Regions from separate parts of the Homo sapiens genome. Here all the other regions are reported to be linked to region 1. Evidence: microRNA targets listed by miRTarBase, many of them from high-throughput screens and not tested one by one. Region 1 holds a microRNA gene; each other region holds the end of a gene's coding sequence.

What was found. Region 1 holds the annotated microRNA hsa-miR-3613-5p (UGUUGUACUUUUUUUUUUGUUC, at 2,132-2,153, opposite strand). A microRNA usually pairs through its seed, bases 2 to 8, with sites in the 3' UTR of a target mRNA and lowers its output. Matches are read on the target gene's strand: a 7mer-m8 pairs with bases 2 to 8, a 7mer-A1 pairs with bases 2 to 7 and ends in A, and an 8mer does both.
Region 2: miRTarBase lists VEZF1 as a target of hsa-miR-3613-5p. Seed matches in the 3' UTR shown: 7mer-A1 at 2,256-2,262 and 7mer-m8 at 1,476-1,482.
Region 3: miRTarBase lists ANP32B as a target of hsa-miR-3613-5p. Seed matches in the 3' UTR shown: 8mer at 3,033-3,040.
Region 4: miRTarBase lists NHSL1 as a target of hsa-miR-3613-5p. Seed matches in the 3' UTR shown: 7mer-A1 at 1,736-1,742.

What each region holds. Positions count from the first base shown.
Region 1 is chr13:49,994,334-49,998,499 of GRCh38, forward strand. MIR3613 (microRNA 3613) reads right to left here and starts at 2,168; the gene lies at 2,082-2,168. TRIM13 (tripartite motif containing 13) reads left to right here and starts at 2,709. Exons shown (of 2, transcript NM_213590.3): 1 at 2,709-3,430. DLEU2 (deleted in lymphocytic leukemia 2) reads right to left here. Exons shown (of 14, transcript NR_152566.1): 11 at 2,741-3,086. RefSeq lists silencers at 1,676-1,725, 2,316-2,445 and an enhancer at 2,006-2,135.
Region 2 is chr17:57,971,254-57,975,419 of GRCh38, forward strand. VEZF1 (vascular endothelial zinc finger 1) reads right to left here. Exons shown (of 6, transcript NM_007146.3): 6 at 299-3,647. The coding sequence ends at 3,220. Among named protein-coding and RNA genes, the nearest start is that of VEZF1, 15 kb to the right of the region's middle.
Region 3 is chr9:98,014,647-98,018,812 of GRCh38, reverse strand. It overlaps ANP32B (acidic nuclear phosphoprotein 32 family member B), which reads right to left. Exons shown (of 7, transcript NM_006401.3): 7 at 2,870-3,449. The coding sequence ends at 3,382. Among named protein-coding and RNA genes, the nearest start is that of ANP32B, 33 kb to the right of the region's middle.
Region 4 is chr6:138,420,693-138,424,858 of GRCh38, reverse strand. NHSL1 (NHS like 1) reads left to right here. Exons shown (of 8, transcript NM_001144060.2): 8 at 43-2,816. The coding sequence ends at 778. HEBP2 (heme binding protein 2) reads right to left here. Exons shown (of 4, transcript NM_014320.3): 4 at 2,662-4,166. Among named protein-coding and RNA genes, the nearest start is that of MIR3145, 13 kb to the left of the region's middle.

The DNA of each region.
Region 1 (4,166 bases):
TTTGGTTTTGTACATTTTAGGAAGACACGAGACATCAATCAGCGTGTGTAAGATGAACACTGGTTCAGTCCAGAAAAGGTGGGACGACTTGAAGCAAAGGTGGGACAACTCAAAACAGGGGGCGGGCTTCCAGGTTTTAGGGAGATAAGAGGCAAATCACTGCATTCTTTTGAGTTTCTGGTTACCCTTTCCAAAGGAGGCAATCAGATATTCATTTATCTCAGTGAGCAGAGGGATGACTTTGAATAGAATGGGAGGCAGGTTTGCCCTAAGCAGTTCTCCGAAGCTTGACTTTTTCCTTTAGCTTAGTGATTTTGGGGCCCCAAGATTTTCCTTTCACATGAGTTAATAACTGTCCAGTCTTGTGAAATATCATTTTAATATTAGGATATCTGAAATGTTTCCATATGGCTGGGTGTGGTGGCTCACGCCTGTAATCCCAGCACTTTGGGAGGCTGAGGCCTGAGGAACACTTGAGCCCAGGAGTTTGACACCAGCCTGGGCAACATAGTGAGACTCTATCTTTACAAAAAATAAAATTAGCCAGGCGTGGTGGCGCATGTCTGTGGTCCCAGCTACTTGGGAGGCTAAGGGAGGAGGATAACTTGGGCCCAGGGGCTTGAGGCTGTAGTGAGCCATGATCATGCTACTGCACTCCAGCCTGGGGGACAGAGATAGACCCTGTCTCAAAATCAATCAACACACAATGACAACAAATAAATGAGATGTTTCTACAGATCACTTTGTTTTTTTAGAAACACTAAATTAATTAATTAATTTAGTTATTGAGACGGAGTCTTGCTCTGTTGCCCAGGCTGGAGTGCAGTGGTAGGATCTCGGCTCACTGCAACCTCCATCTCCCGGGTTCAAGCTATTCTCCTGCCTCAGCCTCTCAAGTAGCTGGGACTACAGGCATACGGCACCATGACCGGCTAATTTTTGTATTTTTAGTAGAGACCAGGTTTCACCATGTTGGTCAGTCCGGTCTGGAACTCCTGACCTCAGGTGATCTGCCCGCCTCGACCTCCCAAAGTGCTGGGATTACAGGCGTGAGCCACCGTGCCTGGCCTAAAAACACTAAATTTAGTAAGGTACTGGGGTGCAGTTTTGTCACTGACAGTTATGGTGCTGTAGAAAGAGCCCATATCTGGAAGCTGCCTTTAGCCTCAGCTCTGCCTCTTGCTTTTGTACCTTGGAAAAGTCACTTCACCTGTTTTCTCATCTATATAGGATGAAGATCATAATTTCTTTTACACAGTGTTATGAGACTGAATGACAGAAATTAAAAGAAGTGTTCTACGAAGGCAAAGTTAGGTTTCTTATAGCAGGAAGGGAGATGCACACAGAGAAGTGGGAATCTCAGGAGACGGATGTGGCCAGGGGCTTTTTACGGGGGTTGGGCTAAGCATTATTAGTCAACGGGCTGTACTGCTATTTATGGTAGGTTTTGAATACCGTTTCTCCAAAATAACCTATTTCCTCCCCAAACCCAAACTTCCTCAACTGGGATCGAACTCAATCCTACAGCGTGTTCTGAGATTCTATACTCGCCTCACTTCTCCCAAGATCGTAAATTCTGGAGGAGCCATTCCTTCATCATCCATGTTTGCATCCTTCACACCGTTCACTGGTTAAGTGCTTAGTACGTTTGCTATTGGGCAAGGTCCTCAAACGGGAGGTGGACGTCAGAATAGTCAGGTTATCGACTGAGTAACTGTTAGTGGTGGATAATTTAAAGCCAATTTGAAAGTTCATCCTTTCCCCCAAAGGCAAAAACAGGCGTTCCTTTTCTTAAAAGAGAATTTTAAATAGAATTGGGTCTCTGGTGTCCTGCCTAAAGCCCGCAAAGAAAGAGGGTACGGTTGGGGGTGGGGGTGATGGGGGATACTGAACCCTTTTCTGGTTGCGCCTTGCCCGGAGCCCCCGGCTAGAGCCCTGGCGCTCCTGGCGCGCTCCCAACGCGAATCGGTGACTCCGCAGGCCGCGCAGTGCGGAGGTGCCCGTCCCACCCTCCCCCTTGTGGGGTGCGGGGCTCCATTTCCCCAAGCCGCTGGGGTCGGCTTCTGGTCTTGAGATGCGGATGAAGTGGTGTGAAGGGTTGGGCTTTTTTTTTTGTTCCTAAAAATGCAACGAACAAAAAAAAAAGTACAACAATCCAAACCCAACCATCTTAATTGCACGGCAGCTTAACTGGGAGACTTTCTTCCCGGGCGGCCCCACCCGGGACCGCGCCGCTTCAGTCGAGCCCACCGTCTGGGCAAACGGCGTCCACTTCCCGGAGCCGCTGCCCAGCCTCTGCGGGGGGGCTTTGGGCGGGCGCAGGACTCTGGAAGGGAGAAAAGCCCGCAGCCCGGCCCTCCCCGTCCCAGGCGGCCCGCGCGGGTGGACGGCGGGAGCAGGCGGCGGTTGGAGACGCCGGAAGGAACGCGGTCTCACCACCCGGCTCCCTCCGCCAAGGCGAGGCGCGGCCGGGGAGGCGGGACACAGGCGAAGCGGGACGGGGAGGCGGGGCCGGAGGTGCAGGCGGAGGCGGGCGACGGGGAAGGGAGGGGGAGGGGGAGGGGAAAGGGAGGGGGAGGGGGAGGGGAAAGGGAGGGGGAGGGGGGAAGGGACGGGAGGGGAGGGGGAAGGGACGGGAGGGGAGGGGGAAGGGACGGGAGGGGAAGGGGAAGCGGGAGAGGGAAGGGGGCGGAGCTAGCCGGAGCCGCGAGTCCATTTTGGGGCTGTGCTTGGCGCGTACCGTGCGGTCCCTGTAGTTGGAGGACGGGCGGTCGCGCGGCCTTTCCCACTAGCCGGAGGTCGGAGATAAGTACCCGCCGCCCGGCTCCTCTCGGGAAAGCGGGGTGGTCCTCGAACCTTCAGCGAGGGTGGGGAGTTGCCCAGGTCAGCAGGGATCTGCGTGGGTTGGGGGGGCTGGCGAAGGCCGTCTGAGCTCCAGTCCGGCAGCGCGGCAGAAACCAGCGGGGCACTGTCATGGGCCTGGGGAGGAGCGGCCTGCGGAGGGCGCCGGGGCAGTGTGTCTGTGGTCCAGAAAACCTGCTCCGTCCGGAGCCTTCCTGGCCCCGCTACCAGCGTCTCCACATCCCCTAGAAAAGAAAAGACGGGTGTGGGCCTTAGGTTACAGCGCGCCGCCAGCGTTTGGTTGCATGGCGCCGGGGGAGGGCGCCCTAACCGAGAAGCTGCTTAATACAAAGAGCTCCAGGCTCCTGGCGGTTCACCAGGTCTAAACAGCCGGGCTTTATTTGTGGGGGCGATTGAAAAAATTGAGGGTCAAGATTGGGGTGCTGTGCAAATAAATGCGTTAATACTGTTCTTTTTCTTCTTTCTTTGCAGTAGCCTCTAGTTCGTTAGTCAAAACGTGAAAAAAAAGACCTGCTTTGCCCTGGGAAATAGTAACCCTGCCAAATACATCAGCTTGTAGGAGACAGAGGTAAACTACAATAATTTTCCTGTGTTATCTTTTTTTTTTAAACACCCAATTTCAATAGGCCCTAGAACCTTCCAAAATGGAACTGTGTGTAGAATACGTATGTTCCCATCCACTTTCATTGGTGGTCTTTGTTCTTTGCATATTTTGTTAAAACTTAGAAAAACAGAATTCACGTTTAGCAATTATTTATGTGGTATTTATCTTAAATATAGCCAAACATTCATATTACAAAGGAAGAAAGGGGCTTCCACACTTTTTTCCTACTTTTTTTTCCCTTCTCCTATGCTTAGTGAATTGTCAGGCTGCTAGGGCTTGTAGAACAGGGCTTGAGTTTTCTAGAGACCTTTATATAATAGGCACTTTAAAAGCAGAATTTCATTTACATAGGCACTCCTTCTAGTAGAACTTGATGGAGCTGTTAACCGGCTATACTTCCTTCTTGCACAATGGGAGCGTCCCTATCCCTCCCTAAAAATACGTTTTTTTTCCTTTCTCCCAGCTGGCTTACTAAACCTCCCTGGGAAGTCCTTTCCTAAAACCGGGCTGTTCTGTTCATTCTATACATTTATGATAGGTTATCTGGCCTTAATTCTGTCACAGCTTTTGTTCAGATATGCTCATTTTCATGACACTGCTTTGTACCTGATACCTTATGTAATATTTGTTTTGCCTTGCCTTGAAATCACAGTTCAAGTTTAGAACCTTTTCTTGCTTGATACACTGATGCTCCAAAATA
Region 2 (4,166 bases), not on the chromosome of region 1:
ATGAGAAGAAATGTTTTAAACCCATCTTCTCTTTTGGGTAGGACAGGGACCTAAACCTGTGGCCACTGCCTCCATCCTAGCTTCCTGGGCCTTACCTGAGCTGCTTGGGAGGGTGCACCTACCAAGGGCAGTCAGTCTGGTGCCCTTCCACCCTCCAACCAGCCTGATACTGGTCCCTCCCTCTCTCTCCAACCCAATACTGAGATGTGCGCACCTGAAAAGAAAGTACTTGAAAAATTCCTCTATTATCAGAGCAAACTGATGAAGCTTCTGAGGTATTAAACAATCCATCATAACATTTGTGACCAGTTAACTTTAATTTTCAAAATAAATCTGCAGTATTTTGCATGTTAGTAATACAGTGCTGGTATTGACAGGTAAAATCATCATCTGCTTACATAGAAACCTTCATTCAGGAGCACACCGTAGGAGGGGAACGGATACACAATAAAAAGCAAACGCAGGCCAAGCAGCGAGCCCTAGAGCGTAACAGGCTGGATGTCAGATTTAAGGATTATCTAATACAACTGTTTAGCTGCCAATCTGATAAAGGGGAAGCTCTCAACCAGGTTACAACCAGAAGGGAAAAACGTACTCTGCCTTTTCGTAGAGCAGTGGCTGTCGTGCCTTCAACACCTGGTTGAATCAGTTCATCAACATCGAAACTCAATTCCAGTTCCAAGACACAGAATTTCATCACACAACCTATTCGGTACCCCTTTTCAGTGGCCCACCCAAAACCCCCTCCTGCCATCGACTCTCTCCCTCCCAAAAGAAGACATGACGTGGCTTTATTATTGCAGACAAGCTTCTTAAGTGAATAAAGAATGCATACAAAATAGTATTTTAACTGAAGTCATACAATGAAGTCTCACTCCTGTTTATTATACAATGAATTGATAAAACAATTACTTCTAGTATATATCTTTTTTTTTTTAGAACTAATACTTTCAGGGTTCTGACAACCACATTCTAGCTTAGGGGTAGGGCCCACACCTGCCCCCACTGAGGACTGCTCCTTGGACCACTGTGGAGGAAGCCTGGGCTGTCTGAATTGTGAATTATGACTGCCAGCCCACCAGAGATAACAGATCCCAGCAGGCAGAGCCAGAACCCAGTTTTGGGTCTGCATGCCAGGAAATGTGAACTTCCTCCAAATGTGGCCACTGTGCCTCCCAATCCAGGCCTCAGCAAGGTCATTCTTGGGCTTTCCCTACACGAGTCCTTCCAGTAGTCCACACATAATGCTCTACATATTAAAAACAAACCATTTTTGTACTGTGGATAAGAACAGTTGTAACAAAGTCATAGCTACATATTTTTCTCTACATTTTGTTTATTGAGACAAACTAATTAAAAGGCACAAACATAGGGCATGTTTACATGGACATTATAACAAACATATACATTAAAAGTGTAGGAATGTGTTGCCTTCCTGCTAAACAGAAAGTTCCTAAGCTTTTATATATACAAAAGTTGTACAATTTAATGTCCTAAAGTACAAAAGATCATTTATAAAATTATTTTACACTAAGTACTATTTATTTTATTTTTTTACTATGTAGTTCAACCCCCTAGAACTGTTTTGTATAATGACACACAGATACCTGTCCCTGATGTAGGAAGTCTGTCTCAGATGCAAGGTATTTTGATGCTTGAACTGACACAGTAGGGTATAAATGGAAATCATCCAGTTTGATAGTCAGTCCTGCAAACATTCTGCAAGATTAACACAACTAATTTCCATTTCTCTTAACTGCAATGATTAAAAAATGAAAAAAACCAAAAACATATTGCAACTTAAAAAATCACAGCATCTTGGTTTAGTTAATTTTTTTTTTAACGCAATGCTTTAAAAACAATGCGTGGCATGATGGTGTAAAGAGTATCTGTTTCCCTAGCTTTTGGTTTCTACTTTATGTACAGAGATAAAATATCTTGCTAAGAAATAAAAAGCACATGTCTCAACGTGCATAATCATTGCTGGGTTTCTACAGGGAATGCAGACAGCTGTCTCCCTGAAAACACCACAAAGCTGATACAAGTGTTTTCTCAAAGAAAAAAAAAGTGATGTCCATATTTACAAAGTTGAACAAATCTGCGCAATACTTAAGAAACGGAAGGAGAAATTTAAAAAAAGATACACTCTGCATGTTCTGAAGGGGCATACACTACCTAGTTAGTGGTTAGAATAAAAACTGTATACAATTTAATATAAGACATAAACTCTAGTGAGCAACTAACACATCTGTCCCTGTTGTAATATCAACAGGCTCTGATTGGGAGAGAGAGGGGCATATCACATCCCAGTGCCTCCAGCGTCTTCCAATTTAAAGCAATATATTTGTACTGTTCCAAAGTACTCCTTGGCTCCTAAATAGGAATCCCACTGGACTCTGTTTATTAGGAGCTTGCCTGTCCACACACTTGACTTCTCCTCTGTCAGTTGAGGCTTTTCTTAGCAAAACACAATTTGTAGATTTTTTTTAAATTTTTTTTTTTTTTAAAAAGTCAACTACAATGCTATATTCCATCGGGATTAATATGCTGAGCAATATTTACATCTCCAAATATCAGGTCACAATCCCTATTATACGTTGAAGTTAGAATGATAAATTATCATATGCTTTGCATATCAGAGCTGGTATCACCTTTCCCATAGGGAATGCTGCCTGAAATTAACATATTCCCAAAGGTAAAATGCATATTCTCTGAAATGCATTTTATTATGACAATGCATGTATTTACTCATAAAAACAATAAACACAGACAATTCTACACTAGCTCTCAATCTGTGGATTTAAAATTTCAGGTTAAAATCAGCCATCCACCTTGTATAGGGAGAAGAGTTCTGCTAGTGTTTACAATAAAGTGATTCCTTGGGATTAGAAATAGTAATGCTGTTTTTTTATTTTGAAGTGGGTTCTACTTATGATTGGTTTTAATTCTGGCATTTCATCTTGCCAACTACTATCCTGTTTAAGCAATGTTGTCAGCTAAAAGGAATTTCTGATTAAACTAAAGTGGTCCAGTGATAAGTTACATACACACCCTACTTTGAATAATCCCAGCCAAATTGGAGAAAAATGCTACCACACTCTTATTAACTAATGTAATAAAATCTCCCAATTTCATGGTTTACTTTTTGCTTTAATCAACTAAAAGTTAAGTTGCTGGTAAATATTTACTTTTACCCATATTTTGATTTTATAATACTGTTTACCAAGGCGGTGATGTAGGCAAAGCTTGGGGCAAGAAAGGCATGCTCTCTACAGGTCTCATTGCTATATTGAGAGGGGCGGCTAATGTCATAGGTGTGGGTAGATTCATTGGAGATGTGATGGTGACAGGGTGTGCTATATTCACTGGGGCAGTGACGGGGGTGGGGAGGTTGACTGGGGTAGTGAGTGTTAAAGGAGAGGTCATGGATAATGGACTGGTTATAGTTACAGGATGCCCTATGTTCATTGGGCTGGTTATGTTAACTGCACTTGAAACATTTACTGGACTTCTCATGCTCATTGCAGCTGCCACTGTGACTGGGTTTGACATAGTCCCAGACGACACAGAGGATGTTATACTGAATGGAGTAGTGAGAGTCACAGGTGTCGTAGCAGCCGTGGAGGTTTGGCACAGGTTAGCAGCTTCTAAAATAAGAAGAAAAAGGGTCTTTAGATTCTCAAAACAGTGAGCAAAATTCACAAAGTTTCTGAATCAATTTCTTTTCATTAAAAATGTCAAACATTTAATAAATCAAATTCCAGTTTTCTATCAAGCGGTCAACAGAACAGAGGATCTTTCTGAGCACAAGCCTGGGGGCCAGGGATCCCAGTGTATGAATCACCTTCTGATGCTATACCTCCTGCAAGGACTTAAGCAACTTGTTTAGCCTTGCACTTTAGGTTTCAAGTTCAGATTTACTTACCTACCTCACAGTGATGCTGAGAGGATCAGTTAACTTCTGCAATGCAGGGCTAAGTGTTCTCACTACTACTTCATGCAGTTCCTCTGAGTTCTAAAAACTTTCTTGGGAAGAGCCAACCTCCAGCAGGCCAGGCTAAAGAGCTTGTTTACACAGAGCTGGGCCAATGGTTACACAATAACAGATAATCAGAAAAATCTTCTCGTAAGGCACACTGTAACTAGCAGAGAGAGGTGTGCATACT
Region 3 (4,166 bases), not on the chromosome of region 1:
CAATAGAATAAGGGTATTTTCTCCATATGCCCTCCCAACACCCCTGGGACAAGTTATAAAATACCCACTTGATCAGAGATTATTAAGCTGACCTAATTGGCTCTGAGGACTTCCACACTCACTGCAATCTTGGTGATTTTCCTGCAGAGCAACTGTTTGGCTGGCTGCAGCTTAAGTCTACTAGTAACTTGATTCCCTTTCCAAACTGTCAACACGGCGGTATCATCAGGCTCATTAAAATTGATGGCAGCACAATGCAACAGAGCTGGAGAAAACTGGAAGGTCATAGCATAGTGTACAACCACTTTGTGCTTCTGTCTCACCTTTCTCTGGCGATGGGGTAGGTAGTGTAGCCCAGATAGGAATGCCAGGAACAGGACGACTCAACTCTCCTGTATCTGTCCTGGAGTATGTACCAGGAGTCCTGGTGGTGGTGATACAGGAGCGGGTAGGGTGCAGTATCTTACACAAGGTGGTTTGTGCATTTCCACGCTGGCCACTATCATTCTTCAGGTGCTGGACTCCTGAAAGAGGAGTGAACTAAAGGTAAGAGCAGAGGTTGAAAACAGGGCGCCATGGACCGGGCACAGTGGCTCACACCTGTAATTCTGGCACTTTGGGAGGCCAAGGTGGGTGGATCACCTGAGGTCAGGAGAGTTCAAGACCAGCCTGACCAGTATGTTGAAACCTCGTCTCTACTAAAAATACAAAAATTAGCCAGGCGTGGTGGCGGGCGCCTGTAGTCCCAGCTACTCGGGAGGCTGAGACAGGAGAATTGCTTGAACCCAGGAGGCGGAGGTTGCAGTGAGCCAAGATTGTGCCACTACATGTCAGCCTGGGCGACAGCGAAGACTCCCATCTCAAAAAAAAAAAAAAAAGAAAAAAGAAAATAGCTTCAAAAAGATGGCATACCAATGTATCACACATGTAGGTGTGTATGTAGAACACACCTCCACCAACCTCGGAGCAGCTAGTCAGGACCAGTCATCTAGCCCATCATAGCTGCCACCCAGCTCAGACATTTTATAACTAAACTTACTGCAGAAGCTGGAAGCAAACCCTCTCAATGTTCTCCTTCAGATGGGAGACAACTCCAAAAATAGTCTGCTGTGTGACCTCATCACCAAACAGCTTGCTTCTCTGAGGACCATGTCAAAGGCATCTTCACTGGCCACATACAGGTGACATCAATATTTTACTATAATGCACAAAAAGGCTTTGACCTTCAAGGCCCCCTACAAGAGCCCAAATGACTTGTCCAGTATTATCATCTATTCATGTGTTGTCAAATCTACTTGTATCTAACTGTACTCAGCAGTTTCCTACCTTTAACCTCTGCTCACCAAGATACTCCCTTCTCTCTCTATTCCTATTTATAGACGCTATTCACACTTGCATGTGCAGCTGAAGTACTTTCTTTTCTAAGAAGCTTCCCTCCCTCCAGGTTGGGTGCCATCTCTCCAGCCTCTGAGCTACACTAAAACTTACCTAAACCTCTTGCTCCTAGGTCCTAGTAAATATTACTTGTGTTGATGTCTTTTCTTCCTGACTAGTTACTATGAGCACCAAGGGCTGGCTTGTCTTTTTAACCCAATTCCCTTCCCTTTTGCCCAGCCAATAAGCCTGGCATATCCTACAGGCTTGGTAGATACTGGGAAGTTCTGTAAACTTTAAAAAACAACTAAAAACAACAACAACAACAACAAACCGGGAAAAATAATCACTCAAAGTTACTGTGTTTGATATTTGACAAATAAGCAAAACCTTAAGGACACACTTAGGCTACAGAAGAAACCATTTTACAATGTATTGAAGGTTTGCCAAAATGGCCTTATGGTTGGGGAAAATGATGTGTAATACCTGTAAAATCAGAAATCAAATTTTCTTGGATTTTCTTTGCAAAAAAGAAACTCCATTTTAAAGTCTATGGGAGATTTTGATTTTAAAGTACAGTATTTGGGGGCTCCATAGAGACTGTGACTTGTTATAAATTCAAATTAGATTCCAATTTTACATATTGCATTTACATGCATCAAAAACCTCACTCATTCCAGCAGCTATAAGCTAAAATTTACTGAAACAATCCTTAAATCTTCCACTATAAAAAACTGTATTGATAATGCAGTCATACATCTATTTTCGCTAAACGGTTAATCACTGAATACAGACAGAATATCCTCCTTTCTCAAATCCCTTTAAGATCTGTAAGAATAGAGAAAATTTCCATCTTATGGAAAACCTGAGTTGACCTCAGGCAGTGCCTACCCACTGCTTGGTGAGGCTTTTCACATGTCATTCCCCCTTTTCACGCCTGTCTTGGCAACAAACCATACTGTGTTCACCCATCAGTCAAACCCTACATGCTTCAGACTAGTGGAAAGCCCATTTTTCTCTTCAGACCTTCCTGTCAGCAAGGGTCACAGAACATCAGTGCTACAAGTGACTTCAGAAGCCATTTGGTCACACCCCTTCAATTTTCCAGACTGGGTGGTGACCCAGAGTCAACACAAGGTCACACAGAAAATCAGTGGCAGAGCCAGAACTAGAATTCAGATCTCTTGGGATTCTGGTGAAGGCCTTTTGCTTTACACTATCTTCTTTCCCTTAATTCACATAATACTTGAACCTAACATTTTACTGGTTTTCAGGGCCCCAGAGTATTCCATTTTGAACGTTATTTTTTAAAGTATGCTTCATTTACTCCCAGTTATCAATGAGGATTTGATCTAAATGCTCAAAGATCCTACACACTTGTGCAATTCCCCTCAACAACTACTAATATAAAAATGCCAAATAAACCAGTTCTTTGGTGTTTTAACATGAGCTTACAATGAGAGTATAATTTAAAAATGTAAGCATACAACTAGGCTTTACCAAAGAGTAACTGTTTATTTCGCTTAAATTCTTAAAAATACTTTTTTGGCAGTTGTCACATAAAATGTCCTAATGTAAAAAAAATAATAATAATAATTAAAAAGCAAAGCATGAAAAAACAGACCCAAAATGTTAAGATTTTATTTACAAAGCTTTTTTGTTGTACAGAAAGTAAAAATGCTGTTACAATCTCAGTGTAACTGGTAGCCACAGACGGTTGACTCACCAATCACAGCTATCCACGCTACAGCAAGAATCTTACACAAAAACCTAACAACGCTTACAATTTTGTTGGGGTGAAGTCCACAAGCTTGGTGGTAGATTACCAAGAGGGACTACATGGAAGGAAGGCGGAATGTCACAGGAACTATTCTTTGGCTCTTTGGGTGGGTGGGTGTCCTGGGGTTTGTATCACAGCTACCTTTTTTTTTTTTTTAAACAGCTACAAAATCCATGAGCAGTCCAACCAATACTGAACAGTTCTGTTTCTGCAGGTCATCTGGGGTCTTAATCATCTTCTCCTTCATCATCTGTTTCTCTCTTCCTCTTTTCACCTTTCCCACCTTCTTCCTCCTCTGTACAGTAACAAAAATTGACTTTAGGACAGTGGAAAGGCATTTTGCTTAGATTATTGCCAATGGAGGCAACAACAACAAAGTTTTTGACAGTTAGGAGATAAAACAATGTAAACTTGATCAGATTAATATAGGTGACTAATAGCAAGTATAAGTGGTGACCACAGAACCAAGAAAAGCAAAATGCACAGCAGCACCTCAACTCACCCAGGAAAAGTTAATCCAGTTTCCTCGATTTTAAGGTGTTGTCTTCCAAATGTTTCTTTTTACAAATCTAGCAATTATTAAAGTGCTTATTATTAACCTGAGCTGGTCAGGCCCACTGGCTCATGCCTATAATCCCAGCACTTTGGGAGGCCAAGGCAGGCAGATCACCTGAGGTCAGGAGTTCCAGACCACCCTGGCCAACATGGTGAAACTCCGTCTCTACTAAAAATACAAAAATGAGCCAGGCATGGTGGCATGTACCTGTAATCCCAGCTACTCTGGATGATGAGGCATGAGAATTGCTTGAATCCGGAAGGCGGAGGTTGCAGTGAGCTGAGATTGTGCCACTGGACTCCAGCCTGGGTGATAAGAGCGAAACTGTCTCCAAAAAAACAAAACAAAACCCCTCGTGCTATCTAGCACGTCTTCAAGACATGCTTACTTTCAAGTGATCTCAGACAAGCTTAACCTCTTTAAGCCTTTTTCATCTGTAAAATGGGGACAATGGTA
Region 4 (4,166 bases), not on the chromosome of region 1:
CCCGTGGGAATTAACCTTTTTCTTAATGTTATTAAATCTCAGATCCAAAAGGAAAGTCCTCGGCCGTAGAGATTCAGATGATGACCACTCCCGAAACCATTCTCCCTCCCCGCCCGTGACACCCACCGGCGCTGCCCCAAGCCTGGCCTCTCCAAAGCAAGTGGGGTCGATTCAGAGAAGCATCCGAAAGAGCAGCACCAGCAGTGACAACTTCAAAGCTCTGCTGCTGAAAAAGGGCAGTCGTTCAGACACCAGCGCCCGCATGTCTGCAGCAGAGATGCTCAAGAACACAGACCCTAGATTCCAGAGGTCGAGGTCAGAGCCTTCCCCAGATGCCCCCGAGAGCCCGTCAAGCTGCTCCCCAAGCAAGAACAGAAGGGCGCAGGAGGAGTGGGCCAAGAACGAAGGCTTGATGCCTCGGAGTCTGTCCTTTTCCGGCCCCAGGTACGGCCGCAGCCGAACGCCGCCTTCTGCCGCCAGCAGCAGGTACAGCATGCGGAACCGGATCCAGAGCAGCCCCATGACCGTCATCTCGGAGGGAGAAGGGGAAGCCGTGGAGCCTGTGGACAGCATAGCCCGCGGGGCTCTGGGCGCTGCGGAGGGATGTTCCCTGGACGGACTGGCGAGGGAGGAGATGGACGAGGGCGGCCTGCTCTGTGGGGAGGGGCCTGCCGCCTCCCTGCAGCCCCAGGCCCCCGGCCCTGTGGATGGGACAGCCAGTGCAGAGGGCAGAGAGCCCTCCCCACAGTGTGGCGGTTCTCTGAGCGAGGAGAGTTAGGGCCAAGAACGTAACTCTCCCAGGTGACACGGGGGGAGACGAGCAATGCAGCACTCTAGGAAGCCTGCTAGGCGCCCTTCCCTGGCTCACCCGGGGAGCCCACTCTGCTTCTGTGCTGTGGGCCCCGGGGTTGCCAGCCCTGCAGTGTGAGTGAACGGTTATTTAGGACTCACCTGGCACTTGCCCTGTGGCTTAAGAACAAGTAGAAGCTTAAACTTCTGAAAGTGCTTCCCGGGGAAGATTTTTTTTTTTTTTTTTTTTTTTTGCTAAATGCTGGGTGTGTATGTGTGCATTTTCCACACTTTTTAATTTTTAAAAAATACACATATACACAAACAACATGTACAGAAATAGAAGAAAGCAAGCCAGACTTAAGCTTGGTAGAGTAACGGAGTCCTCTGGTCTAGGCGGTAATTGCTTTCAGAGAATTACGTTTATAGAAATCAGCGAGTTTTGTAAGAAAGGAGAAGATGTTACTTCAAGAAAGAGGCAGTAGAGTTGCTGGTTCTTAATGCACAGAACACACAGATATATGCACACGTGTGCTGCTGAGGTGAGGCAGGTCTGGTGAGCACGGAGAGGCTGGGAAGGGGCTAAGTGACTAATTGGTTCAGGTACTTTTTTCTGGGGGAGGTAGACTTTGCTTCTTTTTTGTAAAAATGACAAACGTAGAAGTGGCAATGCTGTAACCTGGTGCCTGCTGCTGTGCAGCCACATACACACAATTGTAGCCTGATTTTTAGAAGTGTGGGTAATTTTTTAATGAATTTCCTCCTTGAGTAGCAGCTGAGGTCATTGACAACTGAAGTGATGGTGTGGACATAGAGAGAGGGGAAGGGTTGGAAAGGAGTAAGTGATACACTGCTGGAATTTGTTTCCTGCCTATGAAATAAAATTATTTTTCAGAATTAAATTTGAAAACTTGCACTACAGAACTATGGGTGGAGCTTTTCCTTTTACAACAGTTTTTTTTTTTTTTTTTTTTTAACCAGAGTTTAAACTTCCATTAGGCAATTTCCTGTCACTTGAAATGTCAACATTTGCTAACTTTTGGATATCCTTTTGGTTACACCAAAGAAAAAGTTATGGCTATTTTTTTTTCCTTGAACTGCCTACAGTATCATGTCCTAATTCAGAAAGATTTATCAAAATCTATTATATATTATCTTACTTTGAAGAAAATGCTGAATAGCTCTTGTTAGTCAAATAAACTGATAAAAATTGGTAGGGCCTGGCTATCAATTAGCCCTGGGAAATGAATTTTTAGATTAAAAAGGTTTTTTTGCATCATTTGGTTTGTGCATTTTTATATTTGTTTATAAATAATTGAGTTGCTAATTACTTCTAATCTTCTCCAATCAGATTTTCAACAATTTTAGACATGGGACACACGTGTGTGAAGTCTTTATTTTAATGTAATAATCTCATTACCCCCACCCTTACTCCCTTAACTTCCATGTACTTAGACTCCTTTATTTGTTAAATAAACTAGAGTATTGTCTTCTTCATTAGAAGGACCTAGGATGACAATGCGGAGAGTCTTGGTCTGAATCTAGTGCGACTACCACCTGCCAGCTTTTGGGGGGTATGGAAATACTATCTAAAAGTTGGACTGCATGGGTCAAATCATTATGAGACTTATAAACTAAAACTTTAGATACCCATATAGAAATGTCTTTGAGGCAAAAACAAACCTAAAGAATGAAGGCTCTTTCCCTTCTCTGAAAAAAACAAAACACTGCTCTTCACACAACCGGAAGTCAAGACCAGAGATTTGGAGCAATTGTCTACTAATTTGGCACAAAGATCGTTTCTTTAGAAAAGTGGCATTGGCTTTTGAATATGAAATCTTCTCATAGCTGCCTAAAAAAGACTAGAATGTATATGGATATCAGAAACCTTTAATAATACATAATTTATGCAAAGATAAGATAAAGCAACATAACACTAATTATAAAACTATTTTTAAATCCCCATTTTTAATGAAAAATATACATTTGTATTTAATTTCCTTTGAATAAAACAATTGTAAAGTAAATATTTGAAATATTTCTTTTTGTTTATACATGCATTTTTTTTGAATAATGAGATAGGTGTTCTTATACAGAATTGTTGAGTGTTTTGCTGGATACAAACAGAAAAGCAGTGAGACCAGAAGGTCTCTGGGGGAGGTGACAACCCAACAGAGGAGGTGGAACATCACAGACACTGGATGGCACCATCTACAAGGGCACGTGGAAAAACAAGTCCACATCGTGTCCTATGGACTTTGGAATAAAATACGAATAACCTATCGCCTGGCGGTTCAGATGACGTGGCATGTGGAGAGACGTGAGAACTTCTTACAGGCATGGATGAAATACAGGGAGAGAAGAATCGAGACTCATCCCTGAAACATGGCACCTTCCATGTGGCTACTCTACTCCTTGGGGCCCGCTTCTGTTATGGACCGCATCTTAAAAAGCTCCACAGGGGTAGATCTGATGGCTCTCATACCCTCATACTTTAAGTTCCAGATAATCACAGAAGCCCCAGCCCTAAATTATTTCCACTTTATTTTTACTATCAGTGGGGAGAGAAACAAATTACTGCTTGGTCTGTCAGTTGGAAACAACCTCAATGCGATCTGCTTTCTGCCATCCTACTATTTCTGAAGAATCTTGATTGAACTCTTGCTTTTCCTGTGGGGGTGACTGTATATTCCTTAGGAGAATCACAGTGAAAAGGAGACGTTTCTGTGTCTCCGTCTTTCTCCCCACCCACCACTGGCACCCTGCTCTGTGGTGGCATCTTAGGAGGAGAGGGGAAAGAGTGGCTTTCTTGGTTCTGCCGTAGTAGGGGTTCAGCCTGCATGCGATGCTGATTCCATCATCAAATGAGCACAGCAGCATAATTTGCTTTGGCAGATGTGAGGATGTTGTTGGGGGAATGGAGGGTCATTTGAATGAAACATGGACCTGATTGTTGCGCCACTTTCCTTAATAAGCCACTCGGTAACTGTAATACAGTTTCTCTCAGTTGCCTGCTCTGACCTACCTTCCACAGCGGCCAGCCTTTATTCACAGAACAAGAGGTAGAGCAATCTGTAGTCATTTGTTCAGCAATGGGGGAAAAAAAGTCCTAATAAATGCTTCTCATGTGCTAGGTAAAGACAAGGAGGCCCAAAGATAGAAAACGTGGTTGAGCTATCAGTGAGGGGCATGATCCTACTGCCAGTTTAGATTCTTCAAGAAGTAGACAGTTAGAATACCAAAGGATTTATTATTGGAGTAAGCACCTTTGAAAGGAAAAGAGGAAGCAGGACGAGGCAGGGAGAGCAGGCGAGCTGCCATCCCAGGGGAACTCTGGGAAAAAGGTCACTCATTGGAGGAGTCCTGTGTTGGACTGA